Regions from separate parts of the Homo sapiens genome. Here region 2 is linked to region 1. The links come from fine-mapping of genetic effects on gene expression. A gene starts in region 1. The other region holds a variant in brackets. All regions are shown on one strand. Distances are between the middles of the regions. Region 1 holds the start of AHCYL2 (adenosylhomocysteinase like 2). Region 2 holds the start of LOC107986847 (a long non-coding RNA gene).

What was found. PIP is the estimated chance that this variant, and not a neighbour inherited with it, causes the effect.
Region 2: its variant is the best candidate, but not a certain one, in a credible set for the expression of AHCYL2 in whole blood (INTERVAL, PIP 0.76).

The regions. Positions count from the first base shown.
Region 1 is chr7:129,221,501-129,230,376 of GRCh38, reverse strand. AHCYL2 (adenosylhomocysteinase like 2) reads right to left here and starts at 5,347. Exons shown (of 17, transcript NM_015328.4): 1 at 4,938-5,347. The coding sequence starts at 5,300. RefSeq lists silencers at 5,014-5,263, 5,384-5,453, 8,075-8,369 and an enhancer at 5,734-5,843.
Region 2 is chr7:129,370,602-129,379,477 of GRCh38, reverse strand. The region is part of intron 1 of AHCYL2 (adenosylhomocysteinase like 2); the gene reads right to left. It overlaps LOC107986847 (a long non-coding RNA gene), which reads left to right and starts at 1,800. Exons shown (of 3, transcript XR_007060518.1): 1 at 1,800-1,948; 2 at 6,387-8,085. RefSeq lists enhancers at 3,104-3,663, 3,664-4,224. The variant T/C (reference allele first, on the strand shown) is at 4,942.

The DNA.
Region 1 (8,876 bases):
GGCGCGGTGGCTCATGCCTGTAATCCCAGCACTTTGGGAGGCTGAGGCGGGTGGATCACGAGGTCAGAAGATCGAGACCACCCTGGCTAACTTGGTGAAACCCAGTCTCTACTAAAAATTAAAAAAATCAGCCGGGTGTGGTGGCACACACCTGTAGTCCCAGCTACTCAGGAGGGCAAGACAGGAGAATCGCTTGAACCCAGGAGGCGGAGGTTTCAGTGAGCCGAGATCGCCACTGCACTCCAGCTTGGGTGACAGAGCGAGACTTGGTCTCAAAAAAAAAAAAAAAAAAAAAAAGAATTAAATAAAACAGTATATGTAAAGCTCTAAGTACAATGCCTGGTATACAGTAGGAATATTCTTCCCTTTGCAATTTTCAAAAGCTCTTATCAAAGATTGACTCATAGAGATGGTGAGGCTTAAAGAATAGGGAAAAAGTGTTAGCTGAACAGGAAGAAAGGGTATATTCCTCAGGTACTCCAAATTTATTTATAACTTTTAAAATATGGATAAATTTCTCAGATTATCAGTAAATTACCAGTGTGAAGCTGCATCATTGATCTTGAAATGCTTTTCTGTATAAGATGCTTTTATTCTCCTCTTCTAAATTTACAATTCTTTCAAGTTCTACATTTGTACAATTTTCTCCCATCCTCTTCCTAAAGCTCTAACTCAGACCTGCCTTACTTTGGTCTTGGGATGACCTAAGCCTTAGCCAGACAGACACGCCTTAGAGTTCACTTAGTATTCTAAAAGACCTCTGGGAGAAAGCAAGAACTCAGCATCTAAGAAGTTAGAATCACTGTGGCATAATGAAAAGGACATGGGCTTTGGAGACGGACAGCCCTGGATTTAAGTTCTACCTCTGACACTTTCTAGATGTATAACCTTGGGCAAGGCACTTAACCTCCCAGGATCTCATTTCTGCATCTATAAAATGGAAATAATGCCACCTACATCTCATAGTATGGTTGTGAGGATTACAGAACCCCTATGACAACTCCTGGCACATAAAAGGCTAATGGCTCACATCTGTAATCCCAGCACTTTGGGAGGCCGAGGCAGGCAGGTCACCTGAGGTCGGGAGTTTGAAAGCAGCCTGACCAACATGGAGAAACTTCATCTCTACTGAAAATAGAAAATTAGCCGGGCATGGTGGTGCATGCCTGTAATCCCAGCTACTCAGGAAGCTGAGGCAGGGGAATCGCTTGAACCCGGGAGGCGGAGGTTGCGGTGAGCTGAGATTGCACCATTGCACTCCAGCCTGGGCACCAAGAGTAAAACTCTGTCTCAAAAAAAAAAAAAAAAAAAAAAAGGCTAATTATTGGTAACTATTATTACAGACCAACTGCCAATTGCCTTACTGAACACTTTTCAGAGCAGTACTCTTGTAACAGGCAAAAGGAGTCATACTGCTACCACATTCCCATGTCTTTATCCAAAACATTCCATTTTAGTACTCTATAATTAACCAAATCAAGAGCTTAAACAATTCAGGACAAGAAGTGCTAACATGGCTCAACTCATTCTCTCCTGACAGCAACAAAGCCAGTGGAAGGTGGATATGTTTGCCAAAAGCAATAAAGGGTCTGTTTGAACACGGTCATTACTGATACTGATGTAAGCACAATCTAGTTGAGGTTCTTGGGCTTGCAGCCTTATTGTCAGAAAGTTTTAATATTTCTGAAATAAATCCTCTCCTGCCTTGTTTTCCCTGCTGTGCGCCAACACTCCTATCACTCATTTTCAAGAACACAAGGAAGAAATCCCTTTCAGCTAGTACTACCTCATTCCCTGTGGAACTTACCTTCCCATTTCCCAAATTACTTCTTATAGAGATTTTTGGCTTGCTGGGTTCACTTGATGTCAACTTATGAAAAAGGACACTATAATTAAATATATCATAGCCACATAACATGATCTGGCCCCCAGAGCATCGCAAGTTACAGGACGGAGGCAGGTGCCAAAGATAAGATGTGATTGAGTAACCTGCACACCATATGTTCCTTCTTATTAACTACTGCACTTGGGAATTCTGGCTCTTGTAAAAAGTTTATTCCCCTTGTGTGGCTGAGCAGAGTAACAAAACTAAGAAAACTGATGATATGTGAATGAAGTAAGGAAAACCATCTATGGAAATGTGACTTAAAATAAATGTTTATACATGAAAGTTAAAAAACAAATGCAACAGTCACCAGTTCCACAGCCAAAGGCAGCTATTTCAATACTAGTATTCTCAGTTCCTTCATATGCTATAAGAAAAACAGTAAGGAGTCAAGGTCAAAGTGGTTATTTACATAGACAATCTAAGAATCAACAAAGGCTCAACAAATCAAAATGTCACACTGCAGTTCCTTGGTGAGATGACTTTCAACTTAGGGAAAGGGCAGTCTTGGGCACTTATTTTGATTTAGCCAATTCAATATCAAGAAGGTTAAAGATTGGGCACCTGAAAAGCAGCTCAGCAATGCCCTGAATTTCGTCATCCAGCTGTATCCTTGCCCAGAGCTTCACCTGCTTAACTTTCAGCAGAGAAGTTGTTTTTTTGGTGCAATTAACATTGTAAGGCAAGCTCAGCCCTGCTTTACAATAGCCTTGAGGCTGCTGAGTATATCTACAATCATGGAACATACATTTGGTGCTGAAAAAACAGGAAGATGGTTCAACGACAAGGAAAGTGGTCAAGAAGCACATCTAGAATTAAGAAAAACAGACTCCAGTATGCTGGTCTTTGATTTTTTAACTTTTTTTTTTTTTTTTTTTTTTTTGAGACAAGGTCTCACTCCAGCACCCAGGCTAGAGTGCTCATTGCAGCCTCAACTTCCTGGGCTCAGGTGATCCTCCCACCCCGGCCTCCTGAGTAGCTGGGACTATAGGCACACACCACCATGCCCGGCTCTTTTTTTTTTTTTTTTTTTTGGAGAGAGAGGTTTTCACCATGTTGCCCGGACTGTTCTCAAACTCCTGGACTCGAGCAATCCACCAGCCGTGGTTTCCCAAAGTGCTGGGATTACAGACGTGAGCCATGATTTTTTAATTTCTTTATATAGAATATATTGAACTGTGTGTAACTTTCAGAGGTGGTCATGGGGGCTTGCACTTAAGCCATGATGGGAGGAATAAAATAAAATCAATTATTCATAATAATAAAAGCATTAGTAAGAATATCATTTAAGACTTTATGTGCCAAGCTCAATGCTAAACCTTTTACAAATATTTCTAATCCTCAATCATAATTAGTACTTTCATTTTATAGAAGAGGAAACTGATTTGTGTAATTTGGAAATTACCCAAAAGGTAGTAATGGGGGTACTAGGCTTCAAATCCAGGTCTGCCTGACTGTAAACTTCATGCTCTAAAAGCAATTTGTTAAACACTTTTAGCCTAAAGAAATCTAACCAAATTACAAAGTTTAGACAAAAACAGTCTTTATCACAAGAAAATGACTTAACGATACAAAGTATCTCAACAAGTCAGAAGTATGCTTTGGATTTCCAGACTCAGATCTAGGTACTCCCAGCACTGGTGCTGCTGCTGCCTCTCTTTTTTACTTTACTTTTTTTCTTTAAACCCATTTCTGCAGGATGCTGCCTCTTTCTACTCTAATTCTTCCCAGAGGAGTTTCATACTACAAACGACAAAGACATTGTCTAAAGCATTACAGAAATTCCTTCAGTCTTGCCTCTGACTTATCACCTAAATTTGTATCGTTAGGATGAAAGGATTATCCGCTATACCTTAATCATGACGCTATGACAACAAAAAGTTATGGTGGATCCAAGGTTCCAATTCAGCTGGTCCCACACAGTAAAACCAATGCACACTTCCCGTCTCTTTGTTGCTGTTCTGATAAAGCAATTAAAAACCATTCACAACAATTTAAAAAAAACATTAATCCCTGTGCCCATACTGTGTCTACGAAATTGAAGCTGTAAGCCCTTTTTATATGATCCACACTTCTGTCTTTTCCAATACTTGCCCTGTTTTTCTGTGCTGATTCAGCTTTAAGAGAGAAAGAAAGACAAGCTTTGAGAGAGACAGACAACTATGGATAGACAATGTACGGGTAATACAGGGCTATCATCCACCTAGGCAGTTACTTCTTGGTATTCTGAGACCTCCTCAAAACTGTCTGAAAGAAGCTGACGCCTAAGACCGAAAACCCCACAAAGATCGTCTTTCCCAAAAGTAGCAGCATTTCTTCCTATCACTTTCAGATTATAATAAAGCAATCAATAAGACATTCATTCTCTTCATACACAGCCTAATAATCCTGGTGACCAACTATACCCAGCAGGGAGGACAAAGCTCTTAACACGAAAGAGTGAGGAGAATCTCTCCATTACCCTTTTACATATTCAGGGAAGAGAGAATATCGCAGTCGCTGGAAATGAAGGGCACAGCATCGTGTTGCTGTATGGCCACGGTTGGCCACAGAAAGGCAGAAAGTCATCAACTGTATGGAAACCAGACAACTCTGACGATTTCTATGCAAGGTGACTACACCTTACTCGTTCTCCAAGTATTAAAGATCTTTTCATCCTTATTGCTGTGTGAACTCCCGTGAGCGGTAAGGTTTTTCTATACTATCGAGGTCTCTTCCCCGATAGGCTGGAAAATCACACCCGGGAGCGTGTTGGGGCCGCGGGACGTACTATTAGGTGTCTCTCCTCCCGCTGCCTATTCCAAGTAGTAGGGGAGAGCGCTACCTCCATGTTATTCAGAGCGAAGTACGGCCGTGCCTCCTGGAGTCTCCGCTCCCAGCACGAGGGGCCGGCTGGGGGGCATCTCTGAGAGAGTGGGTTTAAGGGGACAAGGGGTATCTCCGGTCCTGCGATCAGAAAGGAGGGCGTGGAGGGTGGTGCCGCCGTGCCGAGAGGATCTGCAGTTCCCCTCCCCTCCCTTCCTCTCCTAGAGAGGCAGCCCGGCCCCAGTACCTTCTTGACTGTGCGCGGCGCCTCGGTGACGGTGCCGTCGGGGCTGACCAGGGCCTCGCCGCCGTCGCGGTGCCGCTGGTGCTGGTGATGTGGGTCGCTCCGCTTCATGGCCGACGCCTGAGGCACCTTCCCGGCGGCGGGGCTGAGAGCGGCGGCGGGCCCCGAGCCCGGGCCGGGGACCGGGGGCCGCTCCGCGGCGGGAGCTGGAGCCTCAGGGTCTCCACCGCCCGCCGGGGGGGCCATGGCGCCCACGGCGGCCGTGCTCAGTCCTAGTTGCGACTCCGCCTCGGAGGGGCTCAGGTCCTTCAGCTCCACCTCAGGCACCTTGGCGGCAGCCGCGGCTGACACAACCTGCACCGACATCACCGCCTCCGCTGCAACCACCGGCTCAGACTCCAGCTCCTGCTCTTGGTCGGCCCCGCCTCCCACCTCCCTTCCTCTTCCCTCCCCCATGTCCCCACTCCTCCCCTCCATCGCCTCCTCTCCCACCCCCTTTCTCCGCCCGCCAGTCCCGGCCCCTCCAGCCCCGCCCCGCCCCGTCCCGGTCTGGCCTCGCGCGAGGCGCCACGGAACCTGTAGTGCGTTTGCTCCCGGCCGCACGCGGCGAGAAGACCGTGGGACCTCAGGCCCCGACCTACACTGCGCGCCCCATGGGCGGGGCCCGCAGCGTCCCCTGGGAGTTGTAGTCCTTTCAGCCTTTCCTCCACTAAGTGAGATTCAGCCGAGGAGAGGGAGCGCTAGGGCCGGCAGCTAACAGAAAGGAGTGAGGATAGGTGACTCGACGGAGGGGATGAGGAAGAGAAAGTCTCCAGAGGAGTTGTGACTTCCGGGGAGGGAACGCCAAGAAGCCTTAGGGGAGGGGAAGTGGTAGAGGAATGGCTCGTTGTCCTGACAGCGTGAAGTTCCTCCGCGCGTGCCCGTCTGCGATCACGTGAGCGAGTATTTAAAGGAGAAGCGGCGGCTCCAGGCTGGAAGTGGCTTTATTTTTCTTTGTGATATTGAGAACTCAACACCCTTCCAAACTTCAGTGGCTTTGTTTTTAGAAGGGATAAAGTAGGACCTTGCTTGCTGTGGCGCTTTCTGTCACATTCTGGGTTTGGAAGCTAAGATCATTCCTCAAAGAAGTTAGGTATCACTAGATCAAAATTCAAGGCTGAGGAATTACACGTTGCCTTAAACGAGGCCAAATCTTTTCACCTATAATTCTAATAGGGCAATCATCTGAAATTCAGATACATATATCAGCATAGAGGGATATGAATAGTGAATATGAGTAGTTAATTTCCTAAGTGATGGGATTTAAGGTGATTTTTACTTTGTACTTTTCTGTATTATTTTTAAATTTTACATTTAGAGGATGTAAGCAAAAAGACATGCACCGCAGCGTCCTTTTTAATAACAAAAAACTGTCTAAAACTAATGTCCAACAAATAGAGCAATTGTTACAGCCTTTGAAAATCGTTTGCCAGCTGGGCATAGTGGTTGACGTCTGTAATCCCAGCACTTTGGGAGGCCAAGGCCGGCAGATCACTTGAGATCAGGACTTCAAGACCAGCCTGGCCAACATGGTGAAACCCCATCTCTACTAAAAATACAAAAATTAGCCAGGCGTGGTGGCGGGCACCTGAAATCCCAGCTACTTGGGAGGCTGAGGCAGGAGGATCGCTTGAACCTGGGAGGCAGAGGCTGCAGTGAGCCAAGATCATGCCACGGCACTCCAGCCTGGACAACGGAGTGAGATGCCGTCCCAGAAAAAAAGGAAGAAAGAAAGAAAATTGTTTGCCAATACTTTTTAACAACAAGGTTTTCCCTTTTTCATTCTTTACTCTGAAAGCCAAAATGTGAAGAGGAAGCTAAGAAACTCTTGTGTCTGGTACACTTGTGAGCTCTGTGGAAATGGCAGTGCTCAGACGCCTTCCGATACATAGTGTGAGGCACAAATTTGGCGATCAGGAAATGAGAGACTCCAAGGCAGGACAACTTCACGAAGTGAAGATTTCCAAAATCGTAATAGCACAGGAAAGAAGATCAAGGCATTCTGGCTTTCAGAATAAATGCTTATGATAAAAACATTAAGCTAAGAAGCAAGAGACAAAATTGCACATGCCATAAGATTTTATGTAAAGAATACTTTAAAAAGCCTGTAATCCCAGCACTTTGGGAGGCCGAGGCAGGCAGATCACGAGGTGAGGAGATCGAGACCATCCTGACTAACACGGTGAAACCCCGTCTCTACTAAAAATACAAAAATAAGCCGGGCGTGGTGGCGGGCGCCTGTAGTCCCAGCTACTCGGGAGGCTGAGGCAGGAGAATGGCGTGAACCCAGGAGGCAGAGCTTGCAGTGAGCAGAGATCGCCCCACTGCACTCCAGCCTGGGCGACGGAGCAAGACTCCGTCTCGTAAAAAAAAAAAAAAAAAAAAGAATACTTTAAAAAAACAAAATGCAGTTGACTCGCGACAGATTATGGGGGGGGTTCCTCTCTATGCTCAGAGAAACAGGAGCAAAGGGGTTCATACAGTTTACAGCTGTTTCAGAGACTTACAGCCCTAACAACCCAGGCAGCCACTGGACAGCTACTCTTTAGACATCTAGTCTTTGGTGTCACTGTGTTTTGCCTGGCAAGGAGAAGGAAGGAGGCCAGGCATGGTGGCTCACACCTGTAATCCCAACACTTTGGGAGGCCGAGGCGGGTGGATCACTTGAGGTCAGCAGTTCGAGACCAGCCTGGCCAACGTGGTGAAACCCCATCTCTAATAAAAATACAAAAATTAGCCAGGCGTGGTGGCTTCTGCCTGTAGTTCCAGCTACTCAGGAGGCTGAGGCAGGAGAATCCTTTGAACGCAGGAGGTGGAGGTTGCAGTGAGCCGAGATTGCACCACTACACTCCAGCCTGGGCAACAGAGCAAGACTCTGTCTCAAAAAAAAAGAAGGAGAAGGGAGAGAAATCACCTGCCTCGATCTTCTTTCCTGTCCTACTATTTTGGAAATCTGTTCACTCTGTGTGGTTGTCCTGCCTTGAATGGAGGCTCTCATTTCCTGATCTCCAAATTTGTGCCTCACAGTACATGTCGGAAGGCATCTGAGCACTGCCATTTCCACAGAGCTCACAAGACACAAGAGATTCTTAAGTTTTTTCTTCACATTCCGGCTTTCAGAATTTCCTTCCTGTTAAAAAGAAACCAGCCCAGAGCTTCATCCTCCAGCTGTCGGAGCAGAGATTAGCAGCTCTGTAACTGATTTCATTCTTCCCCCTAATGCTCAAGGGAGCTACGGTACAGCCACCTGGCATGTGTTGGAGCTCATAGGCAGCAGCTGCCTACCTGCCACTAGAATTGATTACTGAGAGGATGAATTAATTCTTCAGTGTGATGTGGTTATAAAATATAAGGAGTTAGAGCACTGGAATGAAACTGATACCCTGTTTTATTCCAGTCACCACCACTGATTGGGGCCAACCATCAGGACACATTCTTCAACCTGTTGTCAACTCCATCCCTACATACCTGCTGCTTCTGCCATCCTTGTAGCTGAGGGACACCAGGTACAGTTGAAGATCAAATTACATACTAGAAACAGGGTAATTAAGCACCAGTTTATGAACTATTTAATGAAATATTTGGACTACAGGTCTTCTTCCTTCACCCGGCTCATTCAGCTTCCAGAACGCTGGCAAGCAGGAATGTAACGTCCATGCAGGACATTGGTATAAAAAAGAATTTCTTTTTTTCTTTTTCTTTTTTTTTTTTTGAGATGGAGTCTCGTGCCATCGCCCAGACTAGAGTGCAGTGGCATGATCTCGGCTCACTGCAACCTCTGCCTCCTGGGTTCAAGCAATTCTCCTGCCTCAGCCTCCCGAGTAGCTGGGACTACAGGCACGTGTCACCACACCCGGATAATTTTTTGTATTTTTAGTAGAGACGGGGTTTCACCATGTTAGC
Region 2 (8,876 bases), 150 kb before region 1:
CATTCTTCTTTTTTTTTTTAAATAGAGATGGGGTCTTTCCATATTGCCCAGGCTGGCCTTGAACTCCTGGGTTCAAGCAATCCTCTCACACAGCTGGGACTACAAGCATGTGTCACTGTGTCTGGCAATGTCTCATTCTTTACCTACTATGTTTCTAATCAAATTTAAATCTTTGATACACTTTTTTTTTTTTTTTTTGAGATGGACTTTTACTCTGTCACCCAGGCTGCAGTGCGGTGGCACGATCTCGGCTCACTGCAACCTCCACCTTCTGGGTTCAAGTGATTCTCATGCCTCAGCCTCCTGGTAGCTGGGATTACAGGCACACACCACAATGACCTGCTAATTTTTATATTTTTAGTAGAGACAGCATTTCACCATGTTGGCCAGGCTGGTCTCGAACTCCTGACCTCAAGTGATTCACCCACCTTGGCCTCCCAAAGTGCTGGGATTATAGGCATGAGCCAGTGTGCCTGGCTACTCTTTGACTATATGCTTTTTACAATAAAATTGTGACACCCCACTCCCCACAAATAGAGAATGGGATATTCTGGTTAAATTTTTAGAAAATTGAGTCATATTCAGAAATATTTTATACAGTTTCACTGAAAAGTAAAACTGGAAAGAATATTTCAGATTATCATATTTGTAAGCTCCATATATCTAGATGAGAAAATTGCAAGGTACAAGAAAGAATATTTGAGATTATCATATTTGTAAGCTCCACATATCTAGATGAGAAAATTGCAAGGTACAGGAAGGCAAAATCACTTGCATTCAGGTTTCAAGAATCTCAGGAAATGGTAATGATTTAATAATTTTTAAAAAGCCTTTTCATTAAGAATGAACATTCTGAAATTGCATTTAAATTCTGGCTATGCCACTCATTAGCTGTGTAATGTTGCTCAAGATGCTTTAGTGAGTCTCATTTTTCCATAAATACAACAGAGATAAAAGTACTTACCTCACAGGTTTTAGAGAGGGTTCAATGAGACAATGTGTGTAAATTGAAACATAGCAGGAAATTCAATAAATCTACTCCCTACCCAACCCCTACGGTTCAATGCTCTCGTAACTCTTGCAGGTAGCCACTCTAATTTGTTAAAGCTTTTTAAAATATATTAGTTAGCTTTCCAGTACTAGTAAGTAAATTTATTTTTTTTTTTTTAGATGGAGTCTCACTCTGTAGCCAGGCTGGAGTGCAGTGGCTTGATCTCGGCTCACTGCAACCTCCACCTCCTGGGTTCAAGCAATTCTCCTGCCTCAGCCTCCCAAGTAGCTGGGAGTACAGGTGTGTGCCACCATGCCCAGCTAATTTTTGTATTTTTAGTAGAGACGGGGTTTCACCATGTTGGCCAGGACGGTCTCAATCTCTTGACCTTGTGATCCACCTGCCTTGGCCTCCCAAAGTGCTGGGATTACAGGCGTGAGCCACCACGCCTGGCTAGTAAGTAAATATTAATTTATTTTTAAATATTTGATATTATAAAATACCTAAAAGCAGTAAGATTGATCATTAACTATAATAGATGTAGAAGGAGCAGATTAATTGAATGAATATGTATAAGCCTCATATCATACTCTGGACATTGCATTTTGGATGATTATTTGATAATGATTTTCTTACAATTTTATCTTTCTCCTATTGTTGGAGGTTCCAGCTGATACTTTATAATACTCTACAAATCAAAGGTCACTTGTAAGCTATACTTGTTTGGGGAAAAAAAGCTCATACAATTTATTGAACTAATAACTTTTTTGTTTTCTCTGTTTGTATAATTGCCTATTCTGGATCCAAGGTGGCATAGAGGAAGGTCTAATGAAAATGATCAAAGGTCTGACAAGTGACTCTACCTTTAATGATAAAAAGATGGTTCCTTGATGGGCAGAACATACAGTACACCAGAATGAAAGCAGGAACTGACGGCTCCACTTCCTGCAGTTAGAGGTAACTAATGAGTCACTTGAGTATTGCGACAAGGGACCAATGCCAAATTGAAATAGCTTCACATTGCCTTTTAGGGGGATTCATAGCATTTTCATAGCTATAACAACAAATAAAGCCTACAGAGTGCTTTAGGGCTTGCAAATTGTTTTCAGCAATAGGAAAACTCATCGGATAAGAAGTTCTTCATGAACTAAAAAAAATGACAAAGATGATTATTTTGCTCAACTAGCAATTTATTCCAAAAAGATAAAGTGCCCTTTCTATGTACTCCCATAGGACGTACATGAACTTTCATGTATTGCATTTCTCCTAGCACAGCACTTACCACAATGAATGTAACTATCTGTCTACTTACCGGTATTCTCTATAAACTATAGGCTCATAAAGGGAGAAGCTGTGATTCTTATTCACCCTTATATCTGCAGGCACAAATCCTAGGCACTCAATCAAGTGCTGAATCAATATATCTGAAGTAGCCTATTCTATCTTCACTGTCTATACTTGTTTGAATACTCACTAAATATGGCAAACATAAACCAAGTCTAAAGTTAAAATGATTTTTAAGGGCAAAAAGAGCTGGGAAGAAGAGGGAAGGTGGAAAGCTGGGGAGGTGGACAGCAGTCAGGATGCAAACTCTGGCTTCCGTTTCACCAACCTTGTTCAAAACAGTCACATGTCTTTATTCTTTTTTAGAAGCCCATCCAGGAAAAGGAATAATAATGGAACTTTTCCAGTGTCCCCTTTAAAGAAGAATAGATAAACCGTGTTTCAGATGCTCAACACAACCCCAACACAACCACACACCTGCGTACATGTACATGTGGGTGCATATGCACACACACCATGTACACACACCACTAGAGGGGGCCAGTCACTCTTATACTCTAGATTGTAGGCTCAAGGTGAATAAACCATATAGCTATCTAGCTGCATTATCATCTCAAACCAGTTTATCTGAGCTGAGCTGTCTTCTCTATAGTGTTTTCTATTTACAGCAATCCCTCCTTCCTGGGACAAGTTCATGCTATCTTTTAATACTAAAGAAGACTAGGTTGTACAAGGCTTTCTCCACTTAGAACATAGGGTTCTAAAACCTTGCTTACTGGTTAGACACCGAATTCAAGTTTCTTTAAGACAGAAAAATATTAGAGTGAGATTAACCACTTAAATATAAGTTATGCAATTTTCCGCAAGAAACGAGTATCTTTCTCTGACGACCAGAACATGAGTTAAGTGGCTCCCTGGTGTTTACCTCCTCTTAATAATTAAACACCAATATACAGTCCATTTTGTAATGGATTGGTTTTGTAATCTGCCCACCCCAATTGTGGTACCTTAGTAGATTCTACCCCTAACTTTCCTACCTTGTCTGGAACCAGGGTCTTTTAAGGTAATCCTCCTTTTCCATTTGAGAGAGAACTGCCTAATTCCAACAGGCATTAAGGCAAGGGAGGGAAAGAGACTGTTAAAAGAGGGGTAGCTCACCTTATGCCAGAGGGAGGGATGAAAGCAGGAAAGGAGGGGAAAAAGAGTATAAGCAGTCGGCCTTTTACAATAATGGCTATAGCAGCGGCAAGACTGGTAAATAAGAGCTTAGCCTCACCTGGGCCTTAATCCCAGAGTTGCCATTAACAATGTATTTCTTCTTGCTGCCCAGCATAGTGACATTACCAGCCCCACTGCCACCTCTGTGGTCCAGGGACCCTTGTGATCAGGCCTTTAAACTTTCCTCATCAGCAATTCTGTTGGCTCTGGTTCCAGCCAGCTTTTTGGGCTGGGGAGTGGGGGACTACTCTTCCTTGGAATCCCTGAAGCAGCTCCAACAACCCCTTCAGCAGTACAGCCCCAATTTAATAAGGCATTTCTGTTAGTGGCTCAACAGCCATTCCTAATTCTAGTGGCTGTTTTGCTTTTACTTGTTTTTTTCCTAAACACCTAATTACATGGATCCTCTGACCTCTAAACCTTGCAAGTCCCTTGACAAGGCCCAACTTGCATGCGCATAACAATAGCTTATTTATATAACCACTGCACTTTTTTGCTCGCTATAATTAACTTGCTAATTAGGTTCCTTTTCAACCTTACCTCCTCCTTTTCCATGTCAGATGATTTTAGTTAACCTAGTCTCATTAGAAAAAAATTAACCACAGAGCCACTTAAACAATGAGAGACTTCATTAAAGGAGTAAGAAAAAAAAATTAATGGTGCCAAGTACTCAGGCAGGCCCTACCCTACACTCTGTGTCCTTGGATTAGCCAGACTGGGGACACTGATTTCAGCTCTGTCACCAAGGAAATCAATTTTCTCAGTTCACTGCTTTCCTCTGAATTGTGCATCTTTTATACAGGTTTTGACATTTGGTTTCTAGTCCCAGCTCAAGATTGTTGCTGATTTGGCACAGAGTGACCCAGTTTGCTTTTTTCACAAAATGTGTGTTCATGGAAGGGACGACTACAAAGGGAAGTTTCTTATCTCCTCAGAGTCCCCCGAATCACAACAATCTTACTACGTGCCAAATATTCAAGCAAAAGGGCAAAGAATCACATTATTTATTTGCTGATTTCTGAAAGAGACATAGTGAGGAAGAAAGCTACACTCAACTGTCTGCTACAGAGATTGGGGGGAAAGTGATGTCAATTCTTCCTTAATTAAAAAAAAAAAAAAGACTGCTTGTTGAGCACAAGAAAGGACATAAAATGGCAGATTTTTTTTTTTTTTTTTTGAGATGGAGTTTTGCTCTTTTTGCCCAGGCTGGAGTGCAATGATGCGATCTCGGCTCACTGCAACCTCCACCCTCCGGGTTCAAGTGATTGTCCTACCTCAGACTCCCAAGTAGCTGGGATTACAGGCATGTGCCACCACGCGGGCTAATTTTTTGTATTTTTAGTAAACATGGGGTTTCACCATTTTGGTCAGCTGGTCTTGAACTCCAGACCTCAAGTGATCCACCTGCCTCGGCCTCCCAAAGTGCTAGGATTACAGGCATGAGCCAC[T/C]GTACCCAGCCGGCAGATTTTTTTTTTTTTTTAAGGATAATCTTTATTTAGAGAGAGAAGGTCACATTGCATACTGCTTATTGACATCTCTGGAAGAGAAAAGTTTGGTAAGTGCCTATTTTCACAGTTCTGTGTATATGTTACTTCTATTAATTTGTACAAGAATCTTAAGAATTAGGCAGTATTATTCTCACTTGACAAAGCAGGAAAGTTTAACTCTAAGAGAACAAATGATTTGTCCAAGGTCTCACAGCAAGTAAGTGATGGGACTGGAATTTGAGCCTGTGTTTATGCTAGAGCCAAAGCTCCATCTACTATACCATGCCTCATAATATTAATCAGAAGACCAAAGGTCCTAGTCCTAGGTGTACTAGCCTCAAATCATTCCTTTTATCTTTAAATTTATTTAATTTAAAATTACTCTTTAAATTCATTTTCGTATCAGATTACATCTTAGAAATGACATCATCCCGGATAATCTTGGGGCCCTGATCAAGTCACAATTCTAAAACACCTAATTATATAAGAATTAGAACTCTAACAGCTCTTTAAGGCAACTTTGCCCAATGTCACTACCAGAAATGGAAACAGAAATTAATTGAACTCAAATATGAATATTCACCATCACCCACAGCAATTCTGATCTCTTACTCATAATTTCACAAAGTGAGACAGATCATTTGCTTGCTTGATGAATCTCTCAACTTTTGCTCCTCCTAACAAGAATGTTCACCCCAGTCCGCATGTACTAAGCTGGTTCCCCTTTCCCTCACTCAGGTAAAAAGGAGCTCCTTGGTCCAATGACTTAAGTCAGATAACTTGAGCCAGAAGGACTGGCATATCTATACCAAATAGAACCAGAAGACATTTTAGGAGACAGGAAAAGCCTTACCACTTAACAAGTTTTGTCTGTTTGTTTGTTTTGGTTTTTTTTTTTGAGACTGAGTCTTGGTCTGTCACCCAGGCTGGAGTGCAGTGGCGCGATCTCGGCTCACTGCAACCTCCACCTCCCGGGGTCAAGTGATTCTCCTGCCTCAGTCTCCCGAGTAGCTGGGACTACAGGCGCATGCCACCACGCCTGGCTAGTTTTTTTGCTTTTTTGTTTTGTTTTGTTTTTTTTAGTAGAGACAGGGTTTCTACTAAAAAAAAACTTAAAAAGTTCCATCACTTACTTCGTGTTAGCCAGGCTGGTCTCGATCTCCTGACCTCGTGATCCGCCCACCTCGGCCTCCCAAAGTGCTGGGATTACAGGCGTGAGCCGCCGCACACAGCCAATAAGTTTTTATAGAACACAGTAACTTTCAAATTTTAGCTGCATCAAAATCACCTGGAGAGCTTATTAAAGCACATTGCTGGATCTTAACCACCAGAGTTTTTGAATTATTAGGTCTGGAGAGGGCCCAAGATTTTGTATTTTGTAATTTAAAAAAAAAAATTTTTTTCAGCTTCCAATTCTCTGGTTGAAGATTTTGTGTTTTGAGTAACTCCCCGGGAGACGCTGATGCTACCAGTCTGAAGACCACACTTTGGAAACCACTGCTCTAACACTTTCTCCAAGCGTGAGTAAAGCAGCCCTGATTCTCTTGACTCTACTTAACCAACCATTCTATCCTATCATGGCTATAACCATGGAGGCACGTTCACAGGCAGAAAAGTAAAGGTTATTTGAAAGGTCAGAGAATACAATGAGGTGATCCTTTCTTTTCTTTCTTTTTTTTGGGGGGATGGTGTTTTGCTCTTGTCTCCCAGGCTGGGGTGCAATGGTGCCATCTCGGCTCACTGCAACCTCCACCTCTCAGAGTTCAAGTGATTCTCTTGCCTCAGCCTCCTGAGTAGCTGCGATTACAGGAGCACACCAACCATGCCTGGCTTATTTTTTTTTGTACTTTTTAGTAGAGATGGGGTTTCGCCATGTTGGGCAGGCTGGTCTCGAACTCCTGACCTCAGGTGATCCATCCACCTTGGCCTCCCAAAGTGCTGGGATTACAGGCATGAGGCACCACGCCCAGCTGAGGTGATCTTTCTTTACACCCAAAACAGGGTCTAAAGAAAACTGGGTCTAATTCTGCTTTCCGTAACTTAAGGCTCTTAAGAAGAGACAGGTAATATATTAAGAAAAACAGGACTCATGGGGAGGACAGAAGATCTATTTATCCTAAAGAGGATCAAGGCCAAGAGAAACCAATTAATTCCTTTTCAAGTACATAAAGTAATACTACAAAGGATGTATCTGTGTCTCTACTTCCTAAGGTCTGTCATCATTTCTAAAATAGGGATAATCATATCTACTTTGCCTATTTAAAATGTATGCTGAGATAATAAGATGTGAGAGGGTTTTGAAAACTACATATTGATATGCAAGTCTAAAATATTAATATTTCTATTCTTTCAAATTAAGTGTTCTTAACCTATATTCCATGGATGTCTAGAACCCCCTACAACAGTATGCAAAATTTTGTGTTTTTAATATCCTGGGGAGAGAGCCCATAGTTTTCATCAGTTTTTCAAATGGCTTTCTGTTTTAAGCACCAATCCTGACCTAGAGTGATAGTCAAGCTACCTCTACCACCATTTATCAGACACTTTGGAGATTTTTGTCTCTACTTCCAAGTAGATATGGTTCAGATATTCCTCAAAACACCTCTCTCTTCCAAGCCAAATGAGCGGCTTGAACTAACTCTTTACCTATGAAAAGGATTACTTCTTGCCAAAAGAATATCGGGCATCAAGCTGGCTGGATACTCATGAAAGTCAATCAACCAGATTTCCTATGGAAAAGTACAGAGAGCTGGAGTGGGAGGAGGAGGAAATATTAAAATGTTGAAACACAGAAAAAGTTATTGCTGATCTCCATGCATGTCAGTCGAGGTTACTACCAGAAGGGACTAAAGATCTCTCAGGGGAAGTAAAACACATTAATAAAGACAGTCTTTAAAAGGAAGTGTTCCCCAACCTTTCAGCAGTAAAGCTGTCTGAACAGGGCTAAGAAAATCCTTCACATGAAAACAGCTGAGGAGCAGAGGCTCCAGGAGAAGTTTTCCAGTGATTGATGGAACGTAACCTTGAAAGTCTACCTCGTCAGTTCTTGAGATTGGGGTTCTTCAGGCTTCATCCCGGCTTATTTCCCTGCTGGAAATCAGAGATGTGAGTACTGTCAGCTGTTATATGTGGTGTGAGTCCTATTCTCTGAGGGATATGAAGTCCCTTTTTGCTGGTGATTTTTAACAAAAGGGAGATGTTGTAATATACCTTCTCTGCTAAATTTTTCTCCTGAAAGAAGATTTGAGAGACTTCTCATATTTCCTTTGGTGGCAGGGATAGTTTCAGTGGAAATTTCATTACACTAATATGTAAATGGGAACATGAGTAAGACACTCGTTAAAACTTTAAATTGAAACTTTGGCCCAACATGGGAGCTGGAGCAACGGTTTTTTTCTTGGGGATTAAAAGACACTTTAACATTTTACAAGTAAGGTCTGGAAATCCATCGGCAATACACTAGAGGGTGCTCAGAGGTTAGCTTTCTTGGCTAAGTGGCTATCAGTAGCAACCTAATGAAGTACTTTCAGACCAAGTCAGGAGTCAATGACTTACGTGGTATCTGAAAGAAAGCCTCAAAAGTCTTTGGCAAAGAAAAGCTAGCAAATGAGACAATCGTGTTATTGAAGACTAGCTCCTCCCTATTCCTTTTTATTGCTGTTCAAAATACTGAGCAAAGGTATTTTCCTGCTATTTAAGAGAGAATGGCTGAGAAATTCCTAAGTGAGAGTAATACCTTATTAAAAACAGAACAGAGCAGAGCTGTGCTTTTCTAAATTATTATTTTGTTTGTTTGTTTTGAGACGGAGTCTCACCCTGTCGCCCAGGCTGGAGTGCAGTGGCGCGATCTCAGCTCACTGTAAGCTCTGCCTCCCGGGTTCATGCTATTCTCCTGC